2 linked regions of the Homo sapiens genome follow. The protein of the gene in region 1 interacts with the protein of each later gene in a pairwise test. Each region holds a gene or a part of one and is shown in the gene's direction. Other genes may lie near its edges.

Region 1 (15,330 bases):
CTCTGTCTCAAAAATAAATAAATAAATAAATAAATAAATAAATAAAATAAAAAATAAAAATATTCTTACTACCAGGCACTGTGACTCACACATGTAATCTCAGCACTTTGGGAGGCAAAGGCAGGAGGATTGCTTGAGCCCAGGAGTTCGAGACCAGCTCTAGCAAAATAGGGAGACCCCCCATCTCTACGAAAATAATTTTAAAAATAGAATAAAAGGCCAGGCACCGTGGCTCACACCTGCAATCCCAGCACTTTGAGAGACTGAGGTGGGTGGATCACTTGAGGTCAGGAGTTCAAGACCAGCCTGACCAACATGGTGAAACCCTGTCTCTACTAAAAATACAAAAGTAGTGGGATGTGGTGGCACACACCTGTAATCTCAGCTACTTGGGAGGCTAAGGCAGGAGAATTGCTTGAACCCGGGAGGTTGTGGTTGCATATCTCGCTGCGATTGTGCCATTGCACTCCAGCCTAAGTAACGAGCAAAATTCCATCTCAAAAAAAATAAAAAATAAAAAATACTCTTAGAAACTAGGAATAATATTTTCTTGACATGATTCTTAAAAATTTGTCTCAATTGAATAGCCAACACCATATCCAGTATTGTCATATTTGCCACTCTTATTTAACATTGTTTTAAAAATTGTGGCTGTTGGCCGGGCGCAATGGCTCACGCCTGTAATCGCAGCATTTTGGGAGGCCGAGACGGGCGAATCACCTGAGGTCAGGAATACAAGACCAGCCTGACCAACATGGAGAAACCCTGTCACTATTAAAAATACAAAATTAGCCAAGCATGGTGGTGCATTCCTGTAATCCCAGCTATTCGGGAGGCTGAGTCAGGAGAATTGCTTGAACCTGGGAGGCAGAGGTTGCTGTGAGCCAAGATCATGCCATTGCACTCCAGCCTGGGCAATAAAAGCGAAACTCTATCTCAAAAAAAAAAAAAAAAAGCGTAGCTGTTCAACTAACACATGAAAAAGAAATTACAAATGTACCTATCTGCAAGGAAAGACAATTATCATTATTTGCAGTTGATACAACTACTTAAATGAGAATAATATAGAGTGGTCAGTTATTTTAAAAATGCAGAGACCAAAAAAGTAAAAGCTACCTAGGTATAAGTAATACTTAATTACTGATACACACTTACATTTAAAAATCCTGGCCAGGTGCGGTGGCTCACGCCTGTAATCCCAACGCTTTGGGAGGCTGAGGCGGGTGGATCACCTGAGGTCAGGAGTTCGAGACCAGCCTGACCAACATGGTGAAACCCCGTCTCTACTAAAAATACAAAAATTAGCCGGGCATGGTGGCAGGCACCTGTAATCCCAGCTATTCGGGGGGCTGAGGCAGGAGAATCGCTTGAACCCAGGAGACAGAGGTTGCAGTGAGCTGAGATCATGCCATTGCACTCCAGCCTGGGTGACAGAGGCAAGACTCTGTCTCAAAAAAAAAACAAAACAAAACAAAACAAACAAAAAAAAACAAAACCTGTCCCAGGAGGACTGTTTGAGCCCTGAAGTTCCAGGCTGCAGTGAGCTATGATTGTGCCACTACACTCCAGCCTGGGTGATGTGAGACCTTGTCTCTAAAAAAATAAAAGTTCTGAAGAATATATACCAAGCTCTACCAGTGTTTTTTCTTTGGGGCAAGGAAGGAGGTAGAATTGAGGGAACGGCCTTAACCTTTACTGTATTTCTTAAATTTTTAATAAGAATTAAATATTACTGGAAAAAAATGTACTACTTTAAAAACAAAAGGGCAAAGAATAAAAGATGTAAATAGCCGAATCCTTTGGGAGGAAAAAGACAAATCTTACTAGTGACCACAAAAATACAAATTAACATAACATAACTTTTCATCTAGAAAATTAGTGACCACAGAAAAGAAGTTGACACAAATATGGGGAAAGGGGTCATTTATAACAGGAATGTAAATTGCAGGGTAACAGGCAATAGGAACTTTAAAACATACATATTCTTTGACCCAGAAATTCCACATAAAAGAACATATACCCAGGAAGTAATTATAGATGTTTGTAAAGATTTTACAGTGAGGATATTCTCAGTGTGATGAATATCCAGTATTGTTTATGGTAGCAATAAAACATAGAAACAATCTAACAATTCATGGAGTTTGAGGAGAATAAAAATGATTCATCTTTACAGTAGAATTATTTGTAACCATTAAAAGTGATATGGAAAAATTTTTAATGCATTCAAGAGATGTTCACAGTAGGTATTAAAGTGGACAGAGCAGGTTAAAAAAATTCTTTTTTTTTTCAGACAGTGTCTCACTCTGTCACTGAGGCTGGAGTACAGTGGCGCGATCTCAACTCACTGCAGCCTCTGCCTCCCAGGTTCCAGTGATTCTCCTGCCTCAGCCTCCTGAGTAGCTGGGACTACAGGTGGCACACACCGAGGCAGGTGGATGATGAGGTCAGGAGTTCCGCCTGCCTTGGCCTCCCAAGGTGCTGGGATTACAGGCATGAGCCACCACACCTGGCCTTAAAAAAATTCTTAAAGGTAACTGTTGAGATTGATTGGTAAGGTTCCCGACAAATTTTATTTCATTGTTTTTTGTATTTTGTTATTTTATAGACTAAATCTTCATATGTTTAATATAAAAATTCAAAGCACTCTTTTCTATTTCCCCCAATAATTTGTTGTATATGTGGCTGGTTTGTTGGAAAATGAAGTAAGAAGTTGAACATTTTAATTTTGAAGCCTTACTAGGTTTGTCTTACTCTGTGTTAAGTCATATAAGTTCTTTAAAACATTAACTTTTCAGTTTGAGTTTAACCCTGCCATTTTATTTTCTAGTTTATAAAAATAACCCACACTTAGGCCGGGTGTGGTAGCTCATGCCTGTAATCCCAGCACCTTGGGAGGTGGGATGCGCCTGTAATCCCAGCTACTCGGGAGGCTAAAGCAGGAGAATCACTTGAATCTGGGAGGTGGAGGTTGCAGTGAGCAGAGGTCGTGCCACTGCACTCCAACCTGGGCAACACAGTGAGACTCCAACTCAGTAATAATAATAATAATAATAATAACCCACACTTATAAAAAACTTTTATTGGAAAATAAAACCTATAAAAAGCATCAATAATCATACCACCCAGTAATAATCACTCTTAAATTTTGGTTTATTGCTTTTTTTTTTTTTTTTTTGAGACAGAGTTTCGCTCTGTCACCCAGGCTAGAGTGCAGTGGCGCGATCCCGGCTCACTGCAAGCTCCGCCTCCCGGGTTCACACCATTCTCCTGCCTCGGTCTCCCAAGTAGCTGGGACTACAGGTGCCTGCTACCGTGCCCAGCTAATTTTTTGTATTTTTAGTAGAGACGGGGTTTCACCGTGTTAGCCAGGATGGTCTCGATCTGCTGACCTCGTGAGCCACCTTCCTCGGCCTCCCAAAGTGCTGGGATTACAGGTGTGAGCCACCGCGCCTGGCCGGTTTATTGCCTTTTCAAAAAATTAAATTTTGGCCAGGCATGGTGGATCACGCCTGTAATATGAGGATCGCTTGGGGCTGGGAGTTTGAGACCAGCTTAGGCAGCACAGGGAGACCCTGTCTCCACAAAATCAAAAAATTAACTGGATGTGGTGGTATATACCTGTAGTCCCGGCTGCTAGGGAGGCTGAGGTGGTGGGAGGATCACTTGAGCCCAGGGGGTTCAGGCTGCAGTGAGCCATGATTGCACCACTGGAATCCAGCCTGCCTGGGTGACAGAGAGAGACTTTGTCTCAAAAAACAAAAAACAAACAAACAAAAAGGCCAGACACGCTGGCTCACACCTGTAACCCCAGCACTTTGAGAGGCCAAGGCGGGGGGATCACCTCAGGTCAGGAGTTCAAGACCACCCTGACCAACATGGCAAAAGCCCATCTCTACTAAAAAATACAAAAATTACCTGGGCATGGTGGCCTGCACCTATAATCCCAGCTACTCAGGAGGCTGGGCCGGAGAATCTCTTGAACCCCGGAGGCAGAAGTTGCAGTGAGCCGAGATTGTGCCACTGCTCTCCAGCCTGGACACCAGAGTGAGACTCCATCTCAAAAAAAAAAAAAATTAAACTTTTAATTTTGACATAATTGTAGGTTTCCTTTAAAAAAGTTAACATGCTTGAGAGTTCCTAAAATATAATTTTGTCTTCAACCTTTCTCACCTAATATTATAAGAATTTTCTCACATATCAAAGTTTTTTCCTGTATATCATTTAACAGTTGGATAGCCTTATTACTAATCCAAAAAGTACACATTTATTATCTTCAGATGGGCAACATAAAAAAGCCTGATAATACTGGTGTTAGTGGGGACATGGAGAAAGTAGAAGTTGGTTTTTCTGTTTGTTTGTTTCATTTATTTTTTTTTTGAGACGGAGTCTCCCTGTTACCTGGGCCAGAGTGTAGTGGCGCGATCTTGGCTCACCGCAACCTCCACCTCCCGGATTCAAGCGATTCTCCTGCCTCAGCCTCCTGAGTAGCTGGGACTACAGGCGTGTGCCACCACGCCCGGCTAATTTTTTGTATTTTTAGTAGAGACGGGGTTTCACCATGTTAGCCAGGATGGTCTCGATCTCCTGACCTCTGGTGATCTGCCTGCCTCGGCCTCCCAAAGTGCTAGGATTACAGGTATGAGCCACCGCGCCCGGCCTGAGAAAATAGAAGTCTTATACAGTGCTGGTGGGAGTGCTGTTTTCACTTTTTTGTGTGTTTTAGTTTTTTTTTTTCTTTTTTCTTTAGAGATGGGGTGTCACTACATTGCTCAGGCTGGTCTTGAACTCCTGGACTCAAGTGATCCTCTTGCCTCAGCCTTCCAAAATGCTGGGATTACAGGCATGAGCCACCACTCCTGTTTCCACTTTGGAGAGCTATTGGCAATATCTATTAAAGTTGAAAATGAACATATGCTTTAGTTACATAAACTAAAGGGGGATTTTCAGAGATGTATGCCAAGGGACATGTATGGGGATAATTGAATATTATTTATAATAGTATAAAATGGAAACAATGTCCATACATAGAGTACTTAAATAAAATTCAGTGTATACATATAATGGAATATTATTCAAAGGTAAAGTAAAAATAAATGTCCGTCAACATGCCTCATTTTCAAAAATGCATTGAGTAAAAAAATGCAAGTTGCCAAAAGAAGTCTACGATATTTTATATTTTCTTTTATTTTTCATGAGCTATTTCAGGAACAGCAAAAAGAAGCCTACAATATACCTTTTATGTTTTAAAACAATACTATATATGTATATGCATACATCTATGCACGTGTGTTTGTTATGTATGTGTGCATACATATGTTCTATATATAATATTTAATATGAACACATTAACAGGAAGGAAACCAACAAATGCATGTGCTTGCCTCAGGGATAAGGGGAAGGTAGGAAGAAGGATGCACTACAGAGAAGTATAAAGAGGGCTTCTTTATCACTAACAGTTTACTCCCTTTATTAAAAATATAATACAGGCCAGGCGCAGTGGCTCACACCTGTAATCCCAGCACTTTGGGAGGCCGAGGCAGGTGGATCACCTGAGGTCTGGAGTTTGAGAGCAGCCTGACCAACATGGAGAAACCCTGTTTCTACTAAAAATACAAAATTAGCCGGGTGTGGTGGCACATGCCTGCAATCCCAGCTACTTGGGAGGCTGAGGCAGGAGAATCGCTTGAACTCGGGAGGCAGAGGTTACGGTGAGCCAAGATTGCGCCATTGCACTCCAGCCTGGGCAGCAAAAGAAAAACTCCATCTCAAAAAATAATAATAATAATAAATAAATATATATACACACACACATATATACATAATACAAGAAGATCTGAAATAAGTACACAAGATATTAACATTAATTCTGGGGAGTGAATGGGTCCATGGGTTTTGCTGTATTATTTTCCTTTTTTCAAAATTAAAATGAATTTTTAAAAAATACTAAGTCTAGTGATCCTTTGGGCAAGTTACTGAGGTGACTTTGAGAATCAGGCCTTCTAATCTGAAGTGTTTTTATTTCACAGGCTGAAGTTTCTCTTTGGCTCATCAGCCACCCAGGCCTTGGACCTAGTTGATCGACAGTCCATCACCTTAATCTCATCACCCAGTGGAAGGCGTGTTTACCAGGTAGAAGTCTAGAGATGGGGGTGATCCCTACAGAAACCCCTTAGGACAAAATGTTCTTCATCTCTGTAGAAGCTGTTGACTAGCTTTAAATATTTCCTGGACTGTTAAAAGGCTTTTGCCCCAACTTGGTAAAATTAACGAATTGATAATTTTTTAAAATTTTTATTTACTTTTAACTGACAGAAACTGTCTATATTCATGGTATATAACATGATGTTTTGATATATGGATACCTTGTAGAATAACTAAATCAAGCTAATTAACATATCTAATACCTTATATACTTCTTTTTTTGTGGTGAGATCACTTAAAATCCATTATCTTAGCAATCTTCAAATATACAGTACTTCAGTCTTTTTCTTGGTTTTTATAGAGACAGGGTCTCACTATGTTGCCCAGGCTGGTCTCAAACTCCTAGGTTCAAGCGATCCTCCCACCTTGGCCTCTCACAATATTGGGATTACAGGTATGAGCACCATCCCCGCCAATACTTTGTTATTAAATATATTCACCATGTTGTACCATAGATACCCTGAACTTATTTCTCCTAACTGAAATTTTGTACCCTTTGACCAATATCTCCTTATCTTCCTCTTCCTCCCCCACCCCAAGGCCCCTGGTAACCACTATTTCTTTTTCTATGAGTTCAACTTTTTTTTTTGTTTTAAATAAAGACAGGGTCTTGCTATGTTGCCCAAGCTGGTCTTGAACTCCTGGCCTCAAGCAGTCCTCCCCCTTCAGCCTCCCAAAGTGCTAGGATTACAGGCATGAGCCATTGCACCCAGCCTATGAGTTCAACTTTTTTTAGATTCCACATATAAGTGAGATCATGTGGTATTTGTCATTCTGTACCTGGCTTATTTCACTTAGCATAGTTTCACTTAACAAAATCCTCCAGAAATTTTTGTAACTAAAATAAGATGGCCAGGCGTGGTGGCTCACGCCTGTAATCCCAGCACTTTGGGAGGCCGAGGCAGGTGGATCACCTGAGGTCAGGAGTTCAAGACCAGCCTGGCCAACGTGGTGAAACCCCGTGTCTACTAAAAATACAAAAATTAGCTGGGTGTGGTGGCAGGTGCCTGTAATTCCAGCTACTCGGGAGGTTGAGGCAGAAGAATTGCTTGAACCCAGGAGAAGGAGGTTGCAGTGAGCGGAGATCGCACCATTGCACTCCAGCCTGAGTGACGAGCAGAACTCTGTCTCAAAACAAACAAACAAACAAAAACACAAAAAAAAACTTGGATGGTATTGTCCTACTCAAAAGAGACTGCCAATTATTAGATGAATTTTCTCATGGAGAACTTAGGAATAATCAAAGTCACTGAACTTGCAGTTTGTACCTGAGGAGGTGTGTCTGTCCTCTTTCCTGGTGTTTTTATTTTTGGTTTTTAGGTAGCTAAAATACCCGAAACTAGAGGGACCTTCAAGTTTTTCCCATTGCTTTTAGTTTGGGATATTTGGTCTTGATTCCATTATGGGCACAATACTTGACCTGGCAAGTAGACTTTTGTTTGAAATAGTTTAATTACTGTTGACTTTTTGTTCCTCCCATTGGTCAACAGTAACTTAAGTCACTGGTTTAGTTTTTGTCGTTCACATCTGGTATATATTACATTGCTTTATTAATTATAAAATACTAACTTCCAAGAATTGTGGCTGTCATCTTGGACTTTGAATTAAATGAGGCTGTAGAAATCTTATACACCCTCAAATTAACCTTAATGGTTGCATTGTATGGTAATATAGTAAGAATTTGGCTGAATTCAGGAGTTGTATGAGATGATAAAAGTTGAGTCACATACTGCCTTAGTGCCCAGCTAGTTATCTTTTCATAGGTCATTCTTCATCCCATAGGTCAACTCTAATATTATTGTTCTCCAGATGTAATGTGAAATAATTCTAAAGTCATTGTTATGTTGCTGACACCTGAGTTGTTTTCTATAATTTTTTTTTTTTTTTTTTAAGGCAGAGTCTCGCTCTGTTGCCCAGGCTGGAGTGCATTGGCATGATCTTAGCTCACTGCAACCTCTGCCTCCTGGGTTCAAGTGATTCTTCTGCCTCAGCCTCCTGAGTAGCTGGGATTACAGGTGTGTACCACCACGCCTGGCTAGTTTTTGTATTTTTAGTAGAGATGGGGTTTCACCATGTTGTCCAGGCTGGTCTCAAACTCCTGACCTCAGGTGATCCACCACCTTTGCTTTCCAAAGTGCTGGGATTACAGGCGTGAGCCTGCACTCCTGGCCACTTTTTATACTTTTTTGATTCACTTAATAAGGAGGATGTTTCAGTCAGGAGAGGCTAAGTTATGCTGTGGTATCAATGACCCCAAATCTGAAAGGCTTACAAAAACAAAGTTTTAGATCTCATTCATGCTGTGTATCCACCAGGAGCCAGCTGTAGCTCTGTTCCAAAACAGCTTCATGCAGGGATCCCAGTGGGCAAAGCAGCCCATATCTGGAACACTGTGAATCTCAAAGAGAAAAAGGAAAACATGGTACACAATTTTTAACATTTTTCGCTTGGCTACTCAGATTTTACTAAAGCAGGTCACATGGCCAGCCTGTATTTAACAGGCCAGGAATGTATAATCCTGTTTTCAGAGAGAAGCACCAAACACAAGGAACAATAACAAAGACACTGTGGAGTGTCCTAAGAGGCTTGGAGCGGTCATAAAATAAAACTGTACCCATGAATGGATGACCATGTAGATGGGTCACCTCTCCTTGCGACCTAACTGAAACCACAGTAGAACCACAGTAGAAACCACCTCCAAGTGAGGTTCCTACAAGTTCTGTCAGCCATGGTCTGAGTATCCTCTTTCCAGCATGTTCCTTTTTTAAAAAGCTCTCTCCTTCTGGGGATAAACATTCCAGACTATAAGCGGGAAAACTAGGAGCAATTCCTGTAAGAGGAAGTTGTTTTTTCACTGAAGGGTGAAGGAATTGAATTATGTTATCCTTAAGGTCAATTTCCAGTTCTAAATGTTTCTAACTCAGATTTTGCCTGATTGTTGGGTTCATTAGTTGTCCACTGCTAGATAAGCGAAAAGCAAATTCGAAATTTAACCTCTTTTGGTGTTTATTGCTTTAGGCAGTTGAACATTTTGAGTCTTAGCCCTTGAAAGGCTCAGGCAAGGAAACTCTGTAGAATTTCTCCCCATCTCAAGTCACCAGCTGTTTATTCAGCATGATCCAGGGAGGATTATGATGGACGGGGACTCGCAATAAGAAGGAAGCAGTGAATTATTCTAGTCAGTACAGAATCCCAGAGGCTTCTGCTTGCTTAAGTTTAAATCTAGAGAGAAGAGACGAGATAACTAAAGGGAGAAGAAACCTAAAGTTGTATTCATTGGTAATAGTTTAGACACCCAAGAATTATAGGCCGGGAGTGGTGGTTCATGCTTGGAATCCTAGCAGTTTGGGAGGCTGAGGCGGGTGGATCACCTCAGGTCAGGAGTTCAAGACCAGCCTGGCCAACATGGCAAAACCCCATCTCTACTAAAAATACAAAAGTTAGCCAGGCATGGTGGCACATGCCTGTAATCCCAGCTAATCAGGCGGCTGAGGCAGGAGAATGGCTTGAACCCAGGAGGTGGAGGTTGCAGTGAGCCAAGATTGCATCATTGCACTCCAGCCTGGGCAACAAAATGAAACTCTGTCTCAAAAAAAAGAATTATACATGTCACTGCTGGATGTTGTGGGTTTTTTCTTTAGGATTAAGTAGAAAACAATCTGCTTTAATGCTCTTCCTTCAGTGTAAGCTTCCACACATGCTGGGGAAATCTCTCCATTGATACTGAATGGTCTCGGTGATATGTTCATAACACATCAGAGCCTTGCAGTAGGTAATATGCAAGGTGTGCTTTTTCAACACCTAATTTGTAACTGGGTGGAAATCTTTTTTTTTTTTTTTTTTTTTTTTGAGACAGAGTCTTGCCCTGTCACCCAGGCTGGAGTACAGTGATGCAGTCTTGGCCCACTGCCACCTCTGTCTCCCGGGTTCAAGTGATTCTCCTGCCTCAGCCTCCTGAGTAGCTGGGATTACAGGCACCCGCCACCACACCTGGCTAATTTTTGTATTTTTAGTAGAGATGGGGTTTCACCATATTGACCAGGCTGGTCTTGAACTCCTGACCTCATGATCCACCCGCCTCAGCCTCCCAAAGTGCTGGGATTACAGACGTGAGCCACTATGCCCGGCCTGAACTGAAATCTTGAATGTGTTCAGTAGGCATCTTCTTACCCAATCATTGGCTATTTCTGGTAACCTAAAATCTCCCGAGGAATTCTGACTGCGTCAAAAAACCATACTGAGGCTGGGTGTGGTAGCTCATGCCTGTAATCCCAGTGCTTTGGGAGGCCAAGGTGGGAGGATCACTTAAGCCCAGCAGTTAAAGACCAGCCTGGACAACATAGCAAGACCCCATCTCTACAAAAAAAATTTTAAAATTAGCATAGGGTGGTGGCGCACACCAGTACTCCTACCTCCTCAGGAGACTGAAGTGGGAGGATCACTTTAGCCGAGGGATTCAAGACTGCAATGAGCTATGATCTGCCACTGTACTCCAGCCTGGATGACAGAACAACATCCTGTCTCCAAAAAACAAAAATTAAAAAAAAATGTTAATAAAAGCTGTACTGGGATAACTGCATTATATGAACCACTGAAAATGTGACAAAAGCACAGCAGTGGAACCTGCTGTTTGTTCTTGCAGTCAAACCATACCTGTAGCTTTATTCTCTGTGGGTAAGAAAGATTAAAGAATCCTAGGAGTGCTAACATTGTAATTCAAAAAAAATTTAAAAGTCCTTGCTTTTTCATTTAGATTGCCATCTGAGAGCCTAAAAGTGCTTTGAAGGCTGTGTGGCAAATTCCTAAGTGGCAGTTCATTATAAAATCACCCTCAGGACATTTCTGCTTCCCTCAGATACTAATAATAATCTTACGCCTCCAGGTGGGAAGTTAACTCTAGGAATGAAGACCTCAACAAAAAGTTTTTGGCTGCTTGGTGGTAGAGAGACTTAAACAAAGGATTTCTCCAGCAAATTTGTGCGATCATACTACAGATGTGTCTTGTTTCTCCTGTACCTCTCCTTTTTGTCCCTCTTGACCACCACCAAGACTGTTAGACTGTGCCTCTTATCAACCCACTATGTATCAGTGTCCTCCTTCCATCCTGCTAGATGAGTAGGCAGATCTGGGCCTGCCTCTTTTCCTGAGACCTCCATCCTGAACAGCTGAGTCATTCCTTTCGCAAGGGTCTTTGCTTTATTTATTCTCTCTGCTCTCAAATGCTTTTCAAAAGCCTCTTCCCAGTTTCTTCTTTTGTTCTTCTGTGACCTATCTTTATTTTAGAGATGGGATCTTTGTCACCCAGGCTGCAGTGCAGTGGTGCAGTCACAGCTCACTGCAGCCTTGACCTCCCAGGCTCAAGCAGTCCTCCCTTCTCAGCCTCCTGAGTAGCTGGGACTACTGGCATGTGCCACCATACCTGACTTTAAAAAAATTTTTTTTTCTATAGAAACGAGGTCTCACCATGTTGCCCATGCTGGTCTTGAACTCTGGGGGGGGTCAAGTGATCCTCCCACCTCGACCTCCCAAAGTGCTGGGATTACAGGCTTTGAGCCACCACACCCGGCCTGAGACTTATCTTACTCCTGCCCTGCTACTGACCCTTTGCCTGTTTTTACTCTCTCTTTAGGTATGTAGGAAGCTTTAGAAATTTATACACCTGCTGTGAAATACCAAAGGTTAAGAACCCCCACAATAAAATGTAGATGAGAGATTCCCCCCCCCCACTTCCTTCTTATTACAGTCAGCCCATAGAGTGGGCCCCATGAATCACTAGGCGTAGGAACAGAATGGTTTATGTGGTTGGTTGAACTAATCTGAAACTCTTCAGTTCCTTTATATGCTGTCCTAAAGGTGAGCACTGAGAGGTGAGGAAGGGAGAGTCTGTACACTGGAGGAAGAGAAGTTGTTTCCTCTTTTATGTAAAACATTACTGCAGTTCTTCTCGGTGCAATTTGCAGAGCAACTCTGAGTCTACATAAATAAAAAGGGAAAGAGGTGGTTTTTCCAGCACATCTGAGGTCTGATCCCATCTATCCTTTCTTTGTAGGTCCTTGGAAGTTCCAGTAAAACATACACATGTTTGGCTTCTTGTCATTACTGTTCATGTCCTGCATTTGCATTCTCAGTGCTACGGAAGAGTGACAGCATCCTGGTGAGGATGGGGAAGACTCTTCCCACTGTAGTTGAATGTAGAGAGAAATTGCCCTTACTTTGTGGTTTAACTATTCTACAAAATGGGAATCTTATTATATGTTGAAACAAATGGTAGTTTTTTGTCTTTGTCTTCAGTTAGTCACCTCTTAGGGGTTTAGCCTCTCAAAATGCAATGTCATTTTTAGAACTGCATCAATTTCCTGAATTTTTATGTAAAAGATCATGAGTGAAGCTTTGAGAAGGAAAAAAAGGGAATCCCAGAAGTGGGCACTGGGGAATTAGATGGCCCCATAAAAATATGAACTAAATTCGATGTTGACAACTTTGCATATCCTACTTTCAGCCATGTGGTATATCTTTGCACTACCTGTGAGACAGCCTGACACCACACTTGACCTTCACATGGGGCATGAGTACCTTCACCTATTCCTTTAAGCCTTTGCCAATTTCATCAGAGTCCAGACCATGAAGCAGAAACAGGACATACTCACACACACCTTATTCCAAAGGAAAAAACACTACCTTCCTGAAAGCAGGCAGCTGTTTTCTAAGTCTTGCGAAAGAAGAAAATAATGATGTCCACTCCATTCTTTCCCTTTCTTTTACACTGTTAACTTCTTAAACATCTTGGGACCTGGCTGGCAAGTTGGGTATAGCATTGTCCAAGAGGCCACATTCGTAACTGATGTGCCCTAAGTGTATCTCAACTGCAAGAGACAGGATTGAACCAAAACCCCTTCAAGATCTAAAGCTGTGTTCTCTGACATCAGATTCAACGCAATCATCTCCCCAGAGGTGTGTACAGGCCAATATATGCAAGAGTTTTGCCACTACTCCCCGCCCCCCAACCCCAGAAGTATAACACAGTAGTTAAGAGAGTAGCCTAGACCAGCCGCCTCGTCCGGGAGGTGAGGGGCGCCTCTGCCCGGCCGCCCCTACTGGGAAGTGAGGAGCCCCTCTGCCCGGCCAGCCGCCCCGTCCGGGAGGGAGGTGGGGGGGTCAGCCCCCCGCCCGGCCAGCCGCCTCGTCCGGGAGATGAGGGGCACCTCTGCCCGGCTGCCCCTACTGGGAAGTGAGGAGCCCCTCTGCCCGGCCAGCCGCCCCGTCCGGGAGGGAGGTGGGGGGTTCAGCCCCCCGTCCGGGAGGGAGGTGGGGGGGTCAGCCCCCCGCCCGGCCAGCCGCCCCGTCCGGGAGGGAGGTGGGGGGGTCAGCCCCCCGTCCGGGAGGGAGGTGGGGGGGTCAGCCCCCCGCCCGGCCAGCCGCCCCATCCGGGAGGTGAGGGGCGCCTCTGCCCAGCCGCCCCTACTGGGAAGTGAGGAGCCCCTCTGCCCGGCCAGCCGCCCCATTCGGGAGGGAGGTGGGGGGGGTCAGTCCTCCGCCCAGCCAGCCGCCCCGTCCGGGAGGGAGGTGGGGGGGTCAGCCCCCCGCCTGGCCAGCCGCCTCGTCCGGGAGGTGAGGGGCGCCTCTGCCCGGCCACCCCTACTGGGAAGTGAGGAGCCCCTCTGCCCGGCCACCACCCCGTCTGGGAGGTGTACCCAACAGCTCATTGAGAGCGGGCCATGATGACAATGGCGGTTTTGTGGAATAGAAAGCAGGGAAAGGTAGGGAAAAGATTGAGAAATTGGATGGTTGCTGTGTCTGTGTGGAAAGAAGTAGACATGGGAGACTTTCCATTTTGTTCTGTACTAAGAAAAATTCTTCTGCCTTGGGATCCTGTTGATCTGTGACCTTACCCCCAACCCTGTGCTCTCTGAAACATGTGCTGTGTCCACTCAGGGTTAAATGGATTAAGGGCGGTGCAAGATGTGCTTTGATAAACAGATGCTTGAAGGCAGCATGCTCGTTAAGAGTCATCACCACTCCCTAATCTCAAGTACCCAGGGACACAAACACTGCGGAAGGCCGCAGGGTCCTCTGCCTAGGAAAACCAGAGACCTTTGTTCACTTGTTTATCTGCTGACCTTCCCTCCACTATTGTCCTATGACCCTGCCAAATCCCCCTCTGTGAGAAACACCCAAGAATGATCAATAAAAATAAATAAATAAATAAATAAAACAAAAATTAAAATTAAAATTAAAAAAAAAAAAAAGAGAGAGTAGCCTAGAGACTCTGATGAGCATGTGGTTACAATACCTGTCTTCCTAGGGAGCTGTCAGATTTCAGTGAGATAATCTATGAGAAGCACTTCACAGCCTAGTGCCTCAAGGAATGTTAACCATTGCTGTGACAGCTTTCTGAAGGCAAGGAAGAAATATAACTTAGGACTAACGTGAGGAGTGCAGGTAGTCTGGGTTTTCACCATGGGTTACATACCTTGTGCCTGATGGATCTAAGCCATTTCCCAAAGCAGCAGGCAAAGTAAGTCTGTGTCCACTCTGATTTCTAAAGAGAATACTCCTGTCTCATCATCTTTATCTGCAGTTTTTATTTATTTATTTTTTGAGACAGTCTGGCTCTGTCACCCAGGCTGTAGTGCAGTGGCGTGATCTCGGCTCACTGCAACCTCCACCTCCTGGGTTCAAGCGATTCTCATGGCTCAGCCTCCTGAGTAGCTGGAATTACAGGCATGTACCGCCACACCCAGCTAATTTTTGTATTTTTAGTGGAGACAGGGTTTTGCCATATCAGCCAGACTGGTCTCGAACTCCTGATCTCAAGTGATCCATCCGCCTCAGCCTCCCAAAGTGCTGGGATGACAGGTGTGAGCCACCATGCCCGGCCCATCTGCACTTTTTAGACAATCAGTTAGAGACCCCGTAATCTGTATGCTCTAGTCTTCTCCTGCCAAATAAGATGGTAATGAGAAATCTTGGTTAGACTGGCCAGCCCTGGCCCTGCCTGTTTCTAATAGGTGTGTGTGTTTTATATTCCAGTGCAAGCATCTCTTGGCAGTTTACCTGAGTCAGGTTATGAGGACCTGTCAGCAGCTAAGTGTCTCTGACAAGCAGTTGACTGACATATTATTGATGGAG
Region 2 (15,539 bases), on another chromosome or scaffold:
AGGCTCAGAGCCCCGGGGCAAAGTGCTGCCTCACCTTTGGCTCTGGAGTGCCAAAGACATAAGGTCCCTGGGGAGCAGGGCATGCCTCATCATGGTACCAGGATTGTGTCTGCTATGGTTTGTAGGATGCTTGAGGTCCCTGGGAGGTGGGGAGTCACTTCAGCTCAACCATAAGGGGAGGGTGCACCAGTGTCTCACATGGGGGTGATGGAGCTTGGCCCTAGGGGATAGAGCTTGGAACAGCCTGTTTTGGGGATGACGTGCTACTGGGTAAGATGGTTTTAGTGTTGGCAAAGCCACAGGGATGAAGGGGTACATAGCTGCACACTCCCAGAGCACAACACACTCTAGCAGTGGCTCTGGTTCCAAGATGGTGCAGTGCAGCAGCAGCACAGACCATGGGGGAGGGCACAGTATCAGCTCTTTCTCTTAGATAGCTCAGCATATGAACTCTGGGGAGCTCCCTCAGTTGGGCTCAGAGCTTGTGAGGACTGTGGGAGCCTCTGGTAATGAAGATTGCATGTGTCCACGGTGGTGATGGGGTTTGCCGGGGTCCTCCTGCTCACCTTTTCCCTGCAGGAAGAAGGCTCTCCTGGTTCCAAGCTGATCCTGAGTGGATAGGGTGGCAGAGATGAGGTGTATCCTTTCCTTCCCTGTGCATCCATCCTGGGTTTCCATACTCTACAGAGTTTCTGCTGTTTCTTTATTGTTCTCCAGAGCTCTCCTTTAGTTATTTTGATTGAAATATAGTTGTTTCTTCACTATATTTTGATTTTTTGTTGGAGTTGGGGATGAACCTAGGAGCTTCCAGTCAGTCAACCATCTTGTGACATCCAAGAATTACTTTCTATTTTTCTTTTTGTATGGTATCTTTGCCTGGCATTGGTATCAGGGTAATACGGGCCTCACAGAATGAATTGGGAAGTGTTCCTTCATATTTTATTTTTTAAAAGAGATTGAGAATAACTGGTGTTAATTCTTCCTTTTTACTTTCTTTTTTTTTTTTTTTTTTTAGACAGGGTCTCACTCTGTCACTCTGTTACCCAGGCTGGAGTGCAGTGCTGCAATCATGGCTCACCGCAACCTCAAACTCCTCACCTCAAGCAATCCTCCCACCTTAGCCCTCCCAAGTAACTGGGACTACAGGCATGTGCCACTATGTCTGGCTAATTTTTTTTTAAATTTTTTTGTGGGCCGGGTGCAGTGGCTCACGCCTGTAATCCCAACACTTTGGGAGGCCAAGGTGGGCGGATAACGAGGTCAAGAGATTGAGACCATCCCGGCCAACATGGTGAAACCCTGTCTCTACTAAAAATACAAAAAAATTAGCTGGGCGTGGTGGCACGCGCCTGTAGTCCCAGCTACTCGGAAGGCTGAGGCAGGAAAATTGCTTGGACCCAGGCAGTGGATGTTGCAGTGAGCCAAGGTCACGCCACTGCACTCCAGACTGGGGACAGAGTGAGACTCCGTCTCAAAAAAAAAAAAAAATTGTGGACATAGGGTCTCACTATGTTGCCCAGGCTGGTCTCAAACTCCTGGGCTCAAGCAATCCTCCTGCCTCAGTTTCTCAAAGTCCTGGGATTACAGGGTGTTAATTCTTCTTAAATGTTTGGTAGACTTTACCAGTGAAGCCACCTGGTCCTGAATTTTTCTTCGTTGAGACTTCTTGTTAATAGGGTCTCTAAAGTGCATTTGTAAATTCCCAGTAATTTAAGCCTAATTTTGTGTCACTAAAGCAAATGATAATGTGCTGTAAAGTTGTGGTGAGTGATTTTCATTTAAAAGTTCATTTTAGAAATTTAAAAAAAAATTTATTGTACCACTTTGCCTCAATAAAGCAAGTTTGGTACACCCCAGATACGTGTTAGCCAGTAATAACTCCAGGCAAAACAATAAAAACTCTTAAACTCCCAACCAAAACAAAGGCAACCCATTTTAAAAATGGGCAACTGATTTGAATAGATATTTCTCCAAAGAAGATAGAGAAATGGCCAAAAAGCACATGAAAAGATGCTTAACATCATTAATCATTATGGAAATACAAGTCAAAGTCAGTAAGATACCATTTCACAGCCACTAGCATGGTTAAAATATTTTTTAAAGGGGAAAATTATAAGTATTGGCAAGGATGCCCTCTAACATGGCTGTAGGGAATATAAAATGGTGCAGCTTCTGTGGAAAAGAGTTTTGTGGTTCTTCAGAAAGTTAAACCTAAAACTGTAAATATAATCTAGTCATTCCCCTCCTGCATATATACCCCCAAGTGAAAACAGGTGTTCAAACAAAACTTGTCCACAAATGTTCAGCGTAGCATTATTCATAATAGGCAAAACGTGGAAACAACACAAAGGTTCATCAATTGATTAATGGATAAACAAAATAGTAATCCACCCAATGGAATATTATGCAGCCATTAAAAAGGAATGTAAATTAATATAGCCATTAAGGAAAAACAGTATGGACATTGCTAAGAAAACTGAAAAATAAAACTACTATGTGATCCTGCAATCTCACTGCTGAGTATATACCCAAAGGAACTGAAATCTGTGTGTCAAAGAGACATCTGCACTGCCATGTTCATTGCAGCATTACTCATAATAGCCAAGATATGGAATCAACCTGTGTCCATCAACACGTGAATGGATAAGGAAAATGTGGCATATATACACAATGGAATACTATTCAGTTTTAAAAAAAGGAAATCCTGTCATTTGCCACATGTATGAAGCTGGTGGACATTATGTTAAGTGAAATAAGCCAGACACAGAAATACAGATACTGCTGATCTCACATGTGGAATCTAAAAAAGTCAAACTCATAGAAGCAGAGAGTAGAATGATGGTTATCAGGGGTTGGGGTGAGAGATGGGTAGGATAGGCCACATTTCAGTTAGATGGAGAAATAAGTTCAAGAGATCTATCTATTGTACAAGATGGTGACAGTAGTTAATAACAATGTATTGGGTGGGCACACTGACTCATGCCTGTAATTCCAACACTTTAGGAGGCTGAGGCAGCAGGATCGCTTGAAGCCAGGAGTTTGAGACCAGCCTGGGCAGCATGGTGAAACCCTGTCTCTACAAAATTAAAAAAAAAAAAAAAAAAGTCAAGTGTGTTGGCATGCGCCTGTGGTTCCAGCTACTTGGAAGACTAAGGCAGAGGATCTCTTGAGCCCAGGAGGCTGAGGATGCAGTGAGCCGTGACTGCATCATCGCACTCCAGCCTGGGCAACAGAGTGAGACCCTGTCTCAAACAAACAAACAAAATGTATCATATACTTGGAAATTGCTAAGAGTAGATTTTAAGTGTTTTCAACCACAAAAAACCTAAGTATGTGAGGTAATGCATGTTTTAATTGGCTTGATTTAGCCATTCCACAATGTATACATATTTCAAAACATGTTGTACAACATAAATATATACAATTTTTGTCAATTAAAAGATAAGTTTAAAAAGAGAAAGTGGGACTTTTGGCAGTGAGTAGGTAATGAGGGTAAATCCCTCATGAATAGGGTGAATGCCTTTAAAGAGACCCCAAAGGGATAACTAGCCCCTTCCACCATGTGAGTGAGAACACACTAGAAGTGCCATCTATGAGGAATGGGCCCTTACCAGACACTGTATCTGCCAGAGCCTTGATCTTGGACTTCTTAGCCTCCAGAACTTTGAGAAATAAATTTCTATTCTTTTTTTTCTTTTCTTGAGACGGAGTCTCGCACTGTCGCCTGGGCTGGTGTGCAGTTGTGCAATCTCGGCTCACTGCAACCTCCGCCTCCCGGGTTCAAGCGATTCTCTTGACTCAGCCTCCCAAGTAACTAGGATTACAGGGGCCCCACTACCACGCCTGGCTAATGTTTTTGTATTTTTAGTGGGGACAGGGTTTCACTATGTTGGCCAGGCTGGTCTTGAACTCCTGACCTCGTGATCTGCCCACCTTGGCCTCCCAAAGTGCTGGGATTACAGGTGTGAGCGACTGTGCTTGGCCTAAATTTCTATTCTTTTTAAGCTATGCAGTTATGGGTTGTTAGTTGATGGGTTGTTATAGTAACCCAAATTGACTAAGAAAACCAACTAAGGCCTAAGGCCTAACATAGGCCTGGCACATAGTAAACTTCAATATTTGTTTGTTGAATGAATGAATGCACATTCCTTGAATAATCTGCATTTGACTCTATTTTCCACTCCTACTTTTTATATATATATATATAAACCATTTGTATACTTTTGAGAACCTAGATCCATGGTTCTCAAAGTGTGATCAGGAAAAAGAGATAAAGTGAGATTCACCAAAGTTGAAAACCTCTGTGCTTTGGGCTTTACCACTTATTGGGTTTGTGGCTTTTTGCAAGTTATATAACATGTCTGTGGTGCAATTATCTCATATGTAATCATAATTGTACTTCACACAATTGTCATAGAGATTTTCTGAGATAAATGATAATAATAATTGCTAACACTTCCTGGGCACTTACTATGTATCTGCTGTGTTCTAACCCATCAGGTGAGGCACTATTTTCATTTCATATAAAGGGATTAACATTGCCTGCACATATAAATGTCATATTATTATTATTAACATTATTGTAGTCAATGATTAAAGAAAAGGCTGACAAGGCCTTTTCTTCCCACCCTGAGTGCACGGATCTCCTAGTCGGATGTTTTGTGGGAGACCACTGTGCAACAGCCTGTTACTCCGTGCAATTGCATCCAGTCCAGTGCTTCTCACAGGTGAGCATGCATCAGAGTCAGTTGAAGGGCTTGTCAAAACAGATTGCCAGGCCTTGTCCACCAGGTTTCTGATTCAATTGGTCTAGTATGGAGTCCAAGAATTTGCATTTCTGACAATTTCTCAGATGCTGCTGATGCTACCAGCCCCTCACCAAACATTTTTAAAATAATTATTTTATTGAAATATAATTCAAATACCATAAAATCACCCTTTAAAGTGTACCATTCAGTGATTTGTTACAATATTCACAGTTGTACAACCATCATCACTCTAGAACAAAGTACACATTTTTCTTAATTTTTCAATCTGTTTTAAAAATAGGTATACAAAACAACATAAAAAAGTAGAGATGGAGAAGTCCTCCTCCCCTCATCCCAATCACTTGGTTCCTCCCCTCCACCAGGTAACCCCTTTTATTTCCTATACATCTATTTCGATGTAGCATTTCTTCAAGCAGATATAAGCAATATATGGTCTTTTCCTGTTTTCTTGCACTAGAGAGGCAGCACACTATGAATCATATTCTGTCAATTGTTTTTTTCATTTAGTAAAGCTGGAGATCATTATGAAGGTATTACCATGGCACATTTAACAGTCTCCTTACTCTCCAAGTAAACAAATATATCAATTTTTTCTAGTCTTTTGCTATTGCAAACTATGCTGCAAAAAATACCCTTACATACATATCATTTCACATGTGTTATCATTTCATATGTGTATCCTCTAAAATTCAGGTGTTGCCAAATAGGCCATGAAGGCTCCTCCATCACTAATAGGATTAAGGCCCTTATAAGAGGCTTCACGCAGCATTCAGCTAGCTTGCTTTCTTGCCCTTCTGCCTTCTGCCATGTGAAGATGCAGCAGGAAGGCCCACACCAGACACCAAATGCCAGCTCCTTGATCTCAGATTTCTCAGAGTGAGAAAGTAAGTATCTGTTCTTTGTAAACTACCCAGTCTCAGATATTCTGTTATAGCAGCACAAAACAGACTAAGACAATATGTGTGCAGGTGTATGTGTAGGATTAGTTTCCAGAAGTAGGACTGCTAGCTTAAAGAGTAAATACACTTATAATTTTGAAGCATATTTGATAGGAGTTGCATAATTTTGTACTTTTGTTAGCAATACATTAGAGGGCCCTTACCCCAATATGTGTTGTCCAGGACTTAGATTTTAGCCAATATGGTAGGTGTGCAGTTTAAATTTGCATTTCTCTTGTCATGAGTGAGACAGTACATTTTTCATATGTATAAAAGCCATTTGTGTTCCTTTCTCTGTGAACTGCCCTTGTCCTTTGCCCATTTTCTACTGGGTTTCCCCCAAGGAATACTCTTGCTTACTCCTCCAAGAGTAATTTATACTTTAGGGGGCTGTTTCTATATAACATCAATATGAACTATTCTTTAATTTTGCCATTTGTCTTTGCCTACTGTGTTTTTTTTGCCATGCATAAATTAGGGTTTTTATGTAGTTGAATCGATCAATCTTTCCTATTACGACTAGGACATTTTGAGTCATAGTTGGAAAGACTTTCTCCCCTTTCCCCCACTCTAAGATTATAAAGGAATCTGGTCATGTTTTATTCTAATACCTTGACATTTTTTCACGTTTAAATCTTGGATTCATTTATAGCCTAGAGCACTGTCATCTACCAGACTAAAAAAGAATATGGATGAGTAGATTCTAAACATTTCTCCCCATATTAGATCTTTCTTTAAATACAATCTTGCCCCATATATAAGACAGATGGAAGAGAGCTGCCCTGAAGGTGCAGCAGAGACCCTCCTGTGAGTCACACCCTCCCCAGACTCCATGGATCTCCATGGAATCCTTAGGATGGCTGTAAGCAGAGTGAAGACCACAGATATCTGCAGAACAGCAACTAGGCCAAAAAGTTTGATGAGAAAAAAGTTAAAAGAAGGACTTTCTGGTTTGTCTTGATGTTTGCCATTGAGTGTTTGCTGAGGAGGAAATGAGGCAAGACTGGAGAGGACTTAAGAGACCCTTTCTGCAGGGGCTCATCTTTATTATCAACAGTTCCCTTTTGCTGAGTTCATATGTTCAAGTGAAAAATTCCTCATGATTCTACTATGATCTGATTGGTGTAGTGGAGAATGCATCGACCTTGGTATCACATATGAGTTCTAATCCTGAACAGTTACTAGCTGTGCAGCCTCTGGCAAGTCATTTCTGTTTCACAATTAGCAGTTCATCCATAGTAAATAACTGAGTACTTTGTATATGGAAGACGCTGTGCTAACTGATAGAGATACAAAAACGGAGAAGATAGAAATGGTATTACCTTACAGCATGGAGGTGGAACCACATGGTAAACAAATAACTTTCGTAATTATTTAGATTCTAATTGTTATAACATCTTCAACAGAGCATGAGGTCCTGCGGACATGGAAGAGCAGGGAGGTTCAGGCTTGCTAGTTTAGGGAAGCTGGCCACCAGGTTCAGGTTTGACAGGCGCATAGGAAATGGCATGGCAGAGGGAGGCCAGAGCCTTTTAGGCAAAAGGAAGAGCAAATGCTTATTAGACCCCAAGGCTGCAGGAGCTAGGCACGTTTGACCACCGAAAGGGAAGGCCAGTATAGACAGCATAAACCTCACTGTGGTGTCTGTGTTGAGAATGGATTGTATGTGTGTGCTGTGTGAGGGGCAAGAGTGGATTAGGGGACATGGGTTAAGAGCTACTAGCAGTCTGGGCAAAAGATACTAGTGGCCTGGGAAACAGTGGTAGTGGAGAGTGGACACATTAGTAAGACACACAAACGTGTTCACAAAAATTCCTAGGTTTCTGCGTGAGCTGTGGCCAGGTGGATGTCCATGCCACTACTGAGATGGCGAATTCTGAACAGGAGGAAGTTTGGAGAAAAACCCCAACATTTCGGCAGGACAGCACCTCCTGGTGGAGATGACAAGCGGGAGCCTCACCACAGGCCTGGTTGTGGGAGTGAAAGGGGGACTCCGGGCGCGGTCGGGTGCACTTACTGTGCTAAGACAGCAAGGCCCGGCGGAGGTGGCAATGGCAGACCTGGTTTCTCGGCGGAGTCCCAGTGGGAGGCCCGGTGTCCAAAATCCTCAACTAGATTGGGCATGCCGTTTATCTTGTTCCAACTGTTGACAGTAATGGCACTAGCAATAATGTCCTTCCCAGGCAAAGATGGTTTTTCTTCCGTGTTTTCAGCCACTGCAGAGTGGACATCTACTATGAACCAAGTATCTGCGGCTTTAGGTACCAGATTCAAACACAGAATGGTGGCAGAACAGGGACTAGGACGGAGAGAAAACCTGAAGATGGATCAACCAGGAAGCAATGCATTCTCACAGAGGCACAAAAAAATGCCTCTGAAACAGAAGATTCACCTCCACTTCTGCGTCCTTTTGAGGCAACTTTCTGAGCATCCTTTCCTCCTCCCCAGGCCAACGCTTTTCCACCTTGTTAAACTACCCGGTAGCTTTCTCCATGGGAGGCGCCTTCTTCACAGTACTCGGACCCAGTTACACTTGTGGCCTTCCCCGGCTTCTGCTGGGCCGGCTATGGTCGACGCCGCACCGTCTCAGGCCCACTTCTCCTGCGGGAGCGGCGGCCCCAGCGGAGCCCCTGTGCGCCACGGCGAACGTGATAGGAATGCAATCTTCCGCCCCTTCAGACTCTGGCACCCCGTAGCCTTTCCTCAGGCTCCACGAGTTCTCCCGGTGATGTGATGACCGACATGGCGTCTGGGCTCTGAACACAGACTTTACTCCTTCCCCCCGGCCCCGAAACATGGGGAAACCACACCCTCTCTGCTCCAGTCACCAGCAGCCACTCCCATTCCTTAAGTATCCATTATTGCATGTGTAGCCTATTGCATGTGTAGCCTACTTCTGGTTTTCATTTTTATTTAAGGTCAGTTGTTGCCTGACAACACAGACGACAGTAACTTAATTCGAAAGACAATACTTGGAGGCGGCCCCCGCTCCAGGCACCAGCCCAGCAGCTCCCCCGAACTCCCCAGGAGCTCGCGGGCGAGCAACGCCACAGCCCAGAGCGAGCTCCGCGGAACCCCCAGCCCCGGGGAAGGAAGCTCGACTCTCCGCGGGGCACTCCTTCCGGGCTCCGGGCCCGACTAGGCCATCCGGGAGGCCCTGGAGCGCCGGGGCCGGAGAAGCCCTGCCCCCCGCCGAAGCCCCGCCCTGCGCCCGAGCGCCCGCCAATGGCAGGGCGCGGTGCGGCGCGCCGAGGTGGGACGGCGGCGCGCTGAGGAGGCGGTGCGCTCAGGCGGCGCTCCCGGAGATGCCCCGCGGCAGCCGCGCTCGGGGCTCTAAGGTAGGCTCTGGGGCGGGAGTGGGCGCCGCGCCGTTTCCCGCGTTGCGGGGAAGCGGCGGGCCGGCGCGGGGCTGGCCCCGTTGTGCTGGGGTGAGAGAGGGTGGGCGTTGGGGGTGAAGGGCTAGGTGGTGGCGGGTCCCGTCTGCGCGCGTGGAGCAAGCCCGCGCAGTGGGGTACCGCCCCCAGGTCCGGCTCCGGTCCAGGCGTGCGGGCCGGGCCCTCAGCGGCGGTACGGAAAGCGAGGGGTGGGACCGCCGAGGGACGCAGCGGGCGGGAGCATATGTCCGCCTCGGGGGTACTTGGCCTTACTCTTGTCTCTTTTTGATTCTGGTGTAATGTACCAAACCGCAGGGAATCCTGGCGTGGTTTTACCCGTCTCCGCGGATAATCCACTGTCAACTCTGTCTCTCTTCCTGCCGCACTCGGAGGGGACTGTGCGGCTGACTGCCCAATCCGTGGGCACCGCGCTGCCTCGGGTTCCAGAACGGGAGCGGGTGCCTAGGAATCGTTGCTTGAATGGTGTTTGATTGCACCTGTATCCGCGAGTGCATCCTTTTTTGTTCTGCTAATTGTGCTTGTCATGGCATGTGTCCTTTATCGTTTTAAAGTTTCTTCTAACTTCCTTGCTTTCAAATACGTTTGTCTCATAGTAAAACGGTTTTTAAAAAGCAAACACAGGACCTCCTTTCTTGACTCTTGCCTTTACTTGAAAACTTCCTGGAAAAAATAGACCACATATACTGGTTCAACTTCTTTACCACTACCATGCTTTCTCGCTTCTCAAATACCATTGATTATCAGCCCACACTATCAGTTTTGTGACTGGCTTTAGGGAATAAAGAAATTCATTTCAGGCACCTCTTGATTATAAGATACAGTCTGATTTCTGAAGCATTAATGTGTGAAAAAAATCAAGGAAATATATAAATTTGCTAAATCCAGTGTAAGTTGTTTACTTGATCATTGGAGCGTTTGACACATTCACCACCTGCTTTTATTTCTTTTGGAACATCCATGATTGTTTTCCTGTCTTGCAACAGCTCATTTTCTTCTCTTTACTGTGTTCGTGCCATGTTCTAATTTTTGACCTTGTGCTTTTTCACATGTTCCATATTTGCTTTGGACAATGTCATACATTGAAGTTAACTATATAGATGACTTTCAGATCTATATTAGATCTTTCCCTAGAGCTCAAACTTAGTGCATCACATAATCATCATCTCACCCTTAGTCCTCCAGGCCCTAACAGTTTCTCTTGACTTAGAAATCTTAGTATTTTTGAATTGACGTTCACTTCTGGTCTCTTCATCTTGTCATTTTTCAAGACTCTTTTTTTTTACTCAATTTTTTTTAGTAGTCGTACAGTTGTCTATTGTGTAATACGTTGCTGAAAACTGAAGCAGTTCATAACAAATGTTTATTATATCATAGAGTTTCTGAGACTCAGGAATCTGAGAACGGCTCAACTAAGTGGTTGTAGTTCAGGATCTCCCACAAGGCTGCAGTCAAATAAAGGGTCGTTGGAGCTGGAGAATCCAGTTCCAAGCTCACTCACGTGGTTGTTTCTTGACAGCTGCATAGGGCAGCTCACAACAGGGTCCTGGCTTTCCCAAGAGCAAGAGAGAGAGCAACAAGATATCGGTCCCCGTGTCTTTTATAGCCTAAACTCAGAAGTGACATCCCATCTCCTGTCTATTCATTACATGGACCAACCCGGTACAATGTATGAGGAGACTATAGAGGGTCCCCAGGAGGTGGGGATCACAGGGGCCACCTTGGAGGCTGGCTTCCACAGTATTTCCCAGGAATTTATTTTTTGTTTCTGTCTCCCTCGGTCAGTCTCAAAAGTACTTAATGGTTGGAGTGTTGATGTGTAGTGCCGGCTAGCATGCTCCCATTCCATCTTCAGAGGTGACTTTCCCTTAGGCACTACTTTGATTATATTGTTAGTCCTCTATCTAAATCTCATTTTACTTCTTATTGGCTACATCATAATTTACTGCAGAACTTATCCTGTGTTTAGTGCTTTATATGTATTAACTAATTTAATTATTTTAACAGTCCTGTGAGGTAGATACCATTAGTCTCATTTTATGGATGAGGAAACTGAGGCTCAGCAGAGAGGCTAAGTAATTTGCCTAAGGTCACACAGCAGTTAAGGGAAGAAGCTAGGATTTGTATCCAGGTAGTCTGCCCCAGACCTTGCTTTTGTTCAGGCTCTCAGCCTGTTATTCACAGCCTCCATAATATCTGTGTCTTATTCCTTTACAGCTTTGCTCATTATTTATCTTATAGGTAAACTAGACTACTGCGTCACTGTACTTGCTTGCCCCTTGGTGGTAATTGCGTATGTTCTTGGTTTGGAATAATGCCAGTTCTCCCATTTCTGCTGATTGAAACCTTTTTTTTTTGAGACGCAGTCTCGCTCTGTCGCCCAGGCTGGAGTGCAGTGGCGCGATCTCGGTACAGGCGCCAGCCTCCACACCGGGCTAATTTTTTTTAAATTTTTATTAGAGACAGGGTTTCACCGTGTTAGCCAGGATGGTCTCGATCTCCTGACGTCGTGATCCGCCCGCCTCGGCCTCCCAAAGTGCTGGGATTACAGGCGTGAGCCACTGCGCCCGGCCATGAAATCTTAATCATCCATTGAGGCCTACTTCAAATCCCACCTTCTCCCAAATTATCCCAGCTATAAATGAACTTTCTTCTGTATGTTCTTGGTTTGGAATAATGCCAGTTCTCCCATTTCTGCTGATTGGAATCTTAGTCATCCATTGAGGCCCACCCCAAATTTCACCTCCCAAATTATCCCAGCTGTAAATGAACTTTCTTCTGTAGTCTGTGGAATTTTATGTAAATAACTCTTACTATTCCATGTCTTACATTAGGTTTATTTGTGTCTACACCTTTATTCCCTTATATTCTAGACATTTAAGATTAGGGACTATTTCTTCAGCCCATATTCCCCAGAATACCTGTCATATCCCTTGTATGTACTAGATATCTGATGAATTAATGAAAGGAGAACTAGTTTAGAAGATTTGCAAGTATTCCAGGTGTGAAGAAACAGGAGGAAATACCCTAGTCCGAAGACTCGGATATCTGCCTCAGCAGTACAGCTGAATGATTTTGCAGTTTTGGACAAGCCACACAGATATATCACGACTCTTAAGATGAAAGGTGGTGTGGTTATGGACTAAGGTGGTGGAATTAGGAATAGAATAGAAAGGACTGGGTTGACAGACTACAAATGGAAGGTGAGATTTAGGCAACTGCAATTGAAAGAGGAAGAGGAGGAAACCCATGGTGATTCAGAAAGTCGAACCTATGAGAAGTGAGAAAGTTGTTTGCCTCTTAACTGATGTTAGGATATATAGATATATCCTATATATCACATATATAGATATGTGGTATTTAAGTCCCAGGGAGATTAGGGCAGTCAGTTGCTCAAAGGCTGGGGTATCTTAGTTCTTTCCTCACTCCCCTCTCCTCCATGAGTTTCTCCTGCCCTAGCCCCTCACTATCCCTTAACATGCTGTGATTCTTCCCTTTGTGCCTTGTGTTCTCCCTTTCCTTATGAAGTAGCCAAGGACGACCACATATACTCCTGTTCTTGGGCAGCAGCTTGCCTTTTGAGATTTTCTTTTTTTTTTTTTGAGATGGAGTCTTGCTCAGCCACCCAGGCTGGAGTGCAGTGGCCCGATCTCGGCTCACTGCAACCACTGTCTCCTGGGTTCAAGTTCTCTGAATAGGGCAATATACCTAACATTGAGTTGTCGTTTCTTTATAAAATGGGGTTAATACCTATATTGCTGGGTTGATGTGAGGATTAAATTATGAGAATGCATGCGATGATATACCGAGCATATAAACACTCAATAAATGTTGGTGATAATGAAAGCAATTAATAATGAAACACCATGATAATTAAAGAAATCATATGAGGACAAAGATATTGTACATCCTCTACTGCTTTGTCTCTAGATTTCCCTGGAATTGCTGTCTTTCAGCTTCTTGAACAAGAAATAGGAAAAAGGCTCATTTTCAAGTTTTTCAGTGATGGCAGGAAATTCTCATAGTTATCTTGGTAGGAGTACCTCATGGTTCCAGTTTAAGGCCTTGATAGTCTCATTGAATGATTTACTGGTGGCTCTACATCTCAGAATTAGACTACTTAGTATTGACATCTCAGTTGTCTTTTTTTTTTTTTTTTTTTTTGAGACAGTCTTACTCTGTCGCCCAGGCTGGGGTGCAGGGGTGCTATCATGGCTCACTGCAGTCTTGAGCTCCTGGGCTCAAGTGATCCTCCCATTTCGGCCTCCTGAGTAGCTGGGACCACAGGCCATGCCACTGTGCCTGGCTAATATTTAAATTTATTTTGTAGAGATAGAGTCTTGCTGTGTTGCCGAGGCTGGTCTCGAATTCCTGACCTCAAGCCGTTCTTTCTCCTTGGCCTCCCAAAGTGCTGGGGTTACAGCGTGAACCACTGTGCCTGGCCTAGAGGTTGTCTTATTCCTCAAACCAAAGGGAAAGAGAGGAAAGAGAGCTTTTATTGAAAGCTTTCTATATGTCAAGCACTTTGCATAGAGTACCTCATTTAAGGGAAAACATGTTTTCTTTTTAGTCAAAATAATACATGTTCATAGGTAAGGTAAAATAGTACAAAAAAAGTTTGTTGTAAAACTCAGCAGTCCCTTGCACATCTCATTCCATTTATTTTTATTGAGATAACTGTAAATTCACAGACAATTGTGAGTAATATAGAGAATAATTGTTTTATAAACTAAATCTGGAGGCTGGGCCTTGCTAGATCAAAGTGTTGACAGATTTCATGTCTGGTGAGGGCCTGCTTTCTGGTTCACAGACAGCCATATTCTTACCATGTCTTTATATGGTGGAAGAGGTAAAGGAGCTCTCCAAGGTCTCTTTTATAAGGGCATCAATCCCGTAACTTCTAATCACCTGCCAAAGGCCCCACCTCCTAATACCATCAGGTGATCTGCCCGCATCGACATCCCAAAGTGCTGGGATGACAGGCGTGAGCCACCATGCCCGGTCTGAAGTTTTTTTTTTTTTAATACAACATAAAACTCTCATGATTTATCGAAGTTGTTGTGCATATCAGTAGTTTCTTTGTCTTTTTTTTTTTTTTTTTTGAGTTGGAGTCTCACTCTCTTGCCCAGGCTGGAGTGCAATAGCGCGATCTCGGCTCACTGCAACTTTCCGCCTCCCCAGTTCAAACAATTCTCCTGCGTCAGCCTCCCAAGTAGCTGGTACTACAGGCACCTGCTGCCATGCCTGGCTAATCTTTTGTATTTTAGTAGAGACAGGGTTTCACCGTGTTGCCCAGGCTGGTCTTGAACTCCTGAGCTCAGGCAATGCAATCCACCCACCTCGGCCTCTCAAAGTGTTAGGATTACAGGCATGAGCCACTGTGCCTGGCCAATAGTTTCTTTGTTTTAATTGCTGAGTAGTGTTCCATATAATGGATATACCAGAGTTTGGATTAACATTTATTATTGAAGGACCTCTAGGCTGTTTTCAGGTTTTGGTTATTGCAAATAAAACTGCTATAAACATTTGTGTACAGGTTTTTGTGTGAACATAAGTTTTCATTTCTCTGAGATAAATGCCTAAGTATGTAATTGCCAGAACCTATGGTAATTTGATGTTTAACTCTATAAGAAACTGACAAACTTTTCCAAAGTGGTTATATCTGTATAATTTTGCAGTCCCATTGGCAATGTTGTTATTCAGTTTTATAGATAATAAAATCTACCCTTTTAAAGTGGAAAATCCAGTGGTTTCTAGTATATTTACAGAGTTGTACAAATGTTCCTAATTGTAGAATATTTTCATGACCCCAAAAAGAAACCCCATAGCTATTACTAGTCAGTCACTCCCCATTCTCTCTTCCCTCATCCATTGGCAACCACTAAGCTACTTTCGGTGTGTATGGATTTGCCTATTCTGGACATTTCATATAAAGTGTGGTCATTTTGTGACTGGCTTCTTTCATTAAAAATAATGTTTTCCAGGTTTATACATGTTGTTGCATGTATCAGTACTTCATTCCTATTTATTTTGAATAAATTTTTTATTGCATGGACATACTGCATTTGAAAAATCCATTTATTAGTTGATAGACATTTGGATTATTTCCACCTTTGGGCTGTTAAGAATAATGTTGCTTTGAACTTTTTTTTTTAATTGAGATCCGGTCTCATTATATTGCCCAGGCTGGTCTCAAACTCCTGGCTGGGCTCAAGAGATCCTCCCATCTCAGCTTCTCAAGGTGTTGGGATTACATCCGTGAGCCATCGCACCTGGCCTGCGTTGAACATTTGTATATGCATTTTTATGTAGACCTAAGTTTTTCTTTCTCTAGCAGTGGAATTTTTGGGTCACATAATAACTGTATGTTTACATTTTGGATAACTGTTAGAATTTTCCAAAGTGGTTGCACCTTTTACAGTCTCACCAGCAAGGAATGA

The links.
Region 2: the proteins of ZSWIM7 (region 1) and SPIDR interact in binary tests that used the Homo sapiens proteins (3 or more experiments, as listed by UniProt).

The regions. Positions count from the first base shown.
Region 1 is NC_000017.11:15,978,065-15,993,394, reverse strand, and holds part of ZSWIM7 (zinc finger SWIM domain-containing protein 7), read left to right. Parts: intron 1-6,026; coding exon 6,027-6,129; intron 6,130-12,250; coding exon 12,251-12,355; intron 12,356-15,231; coding exon 15,232-15,330. UniProt on the Homo sapiens protein: Involved in early stages of the homologous recombination repair (HRR) pathway of double-stranded DNA breaks arising during DNA replication or induced by DNA-damaging agents. Required for meiotic progression, hence for fertility.
Region 2 is NC_000008.11:47,251,947-47,267,485, forward strand, and holds the start of SPIDR (DNA repair-scaffolding protein), read left to right. Parts: upstream 1-8,991; 5' UTR 8,992-9,012; coding exon 9,013-9,045; intron 9,046-15,539. UniProt on the Homo sapiens protein: Plays a role in DNA double-strand break (DBS) repair via homologous recombination (HR).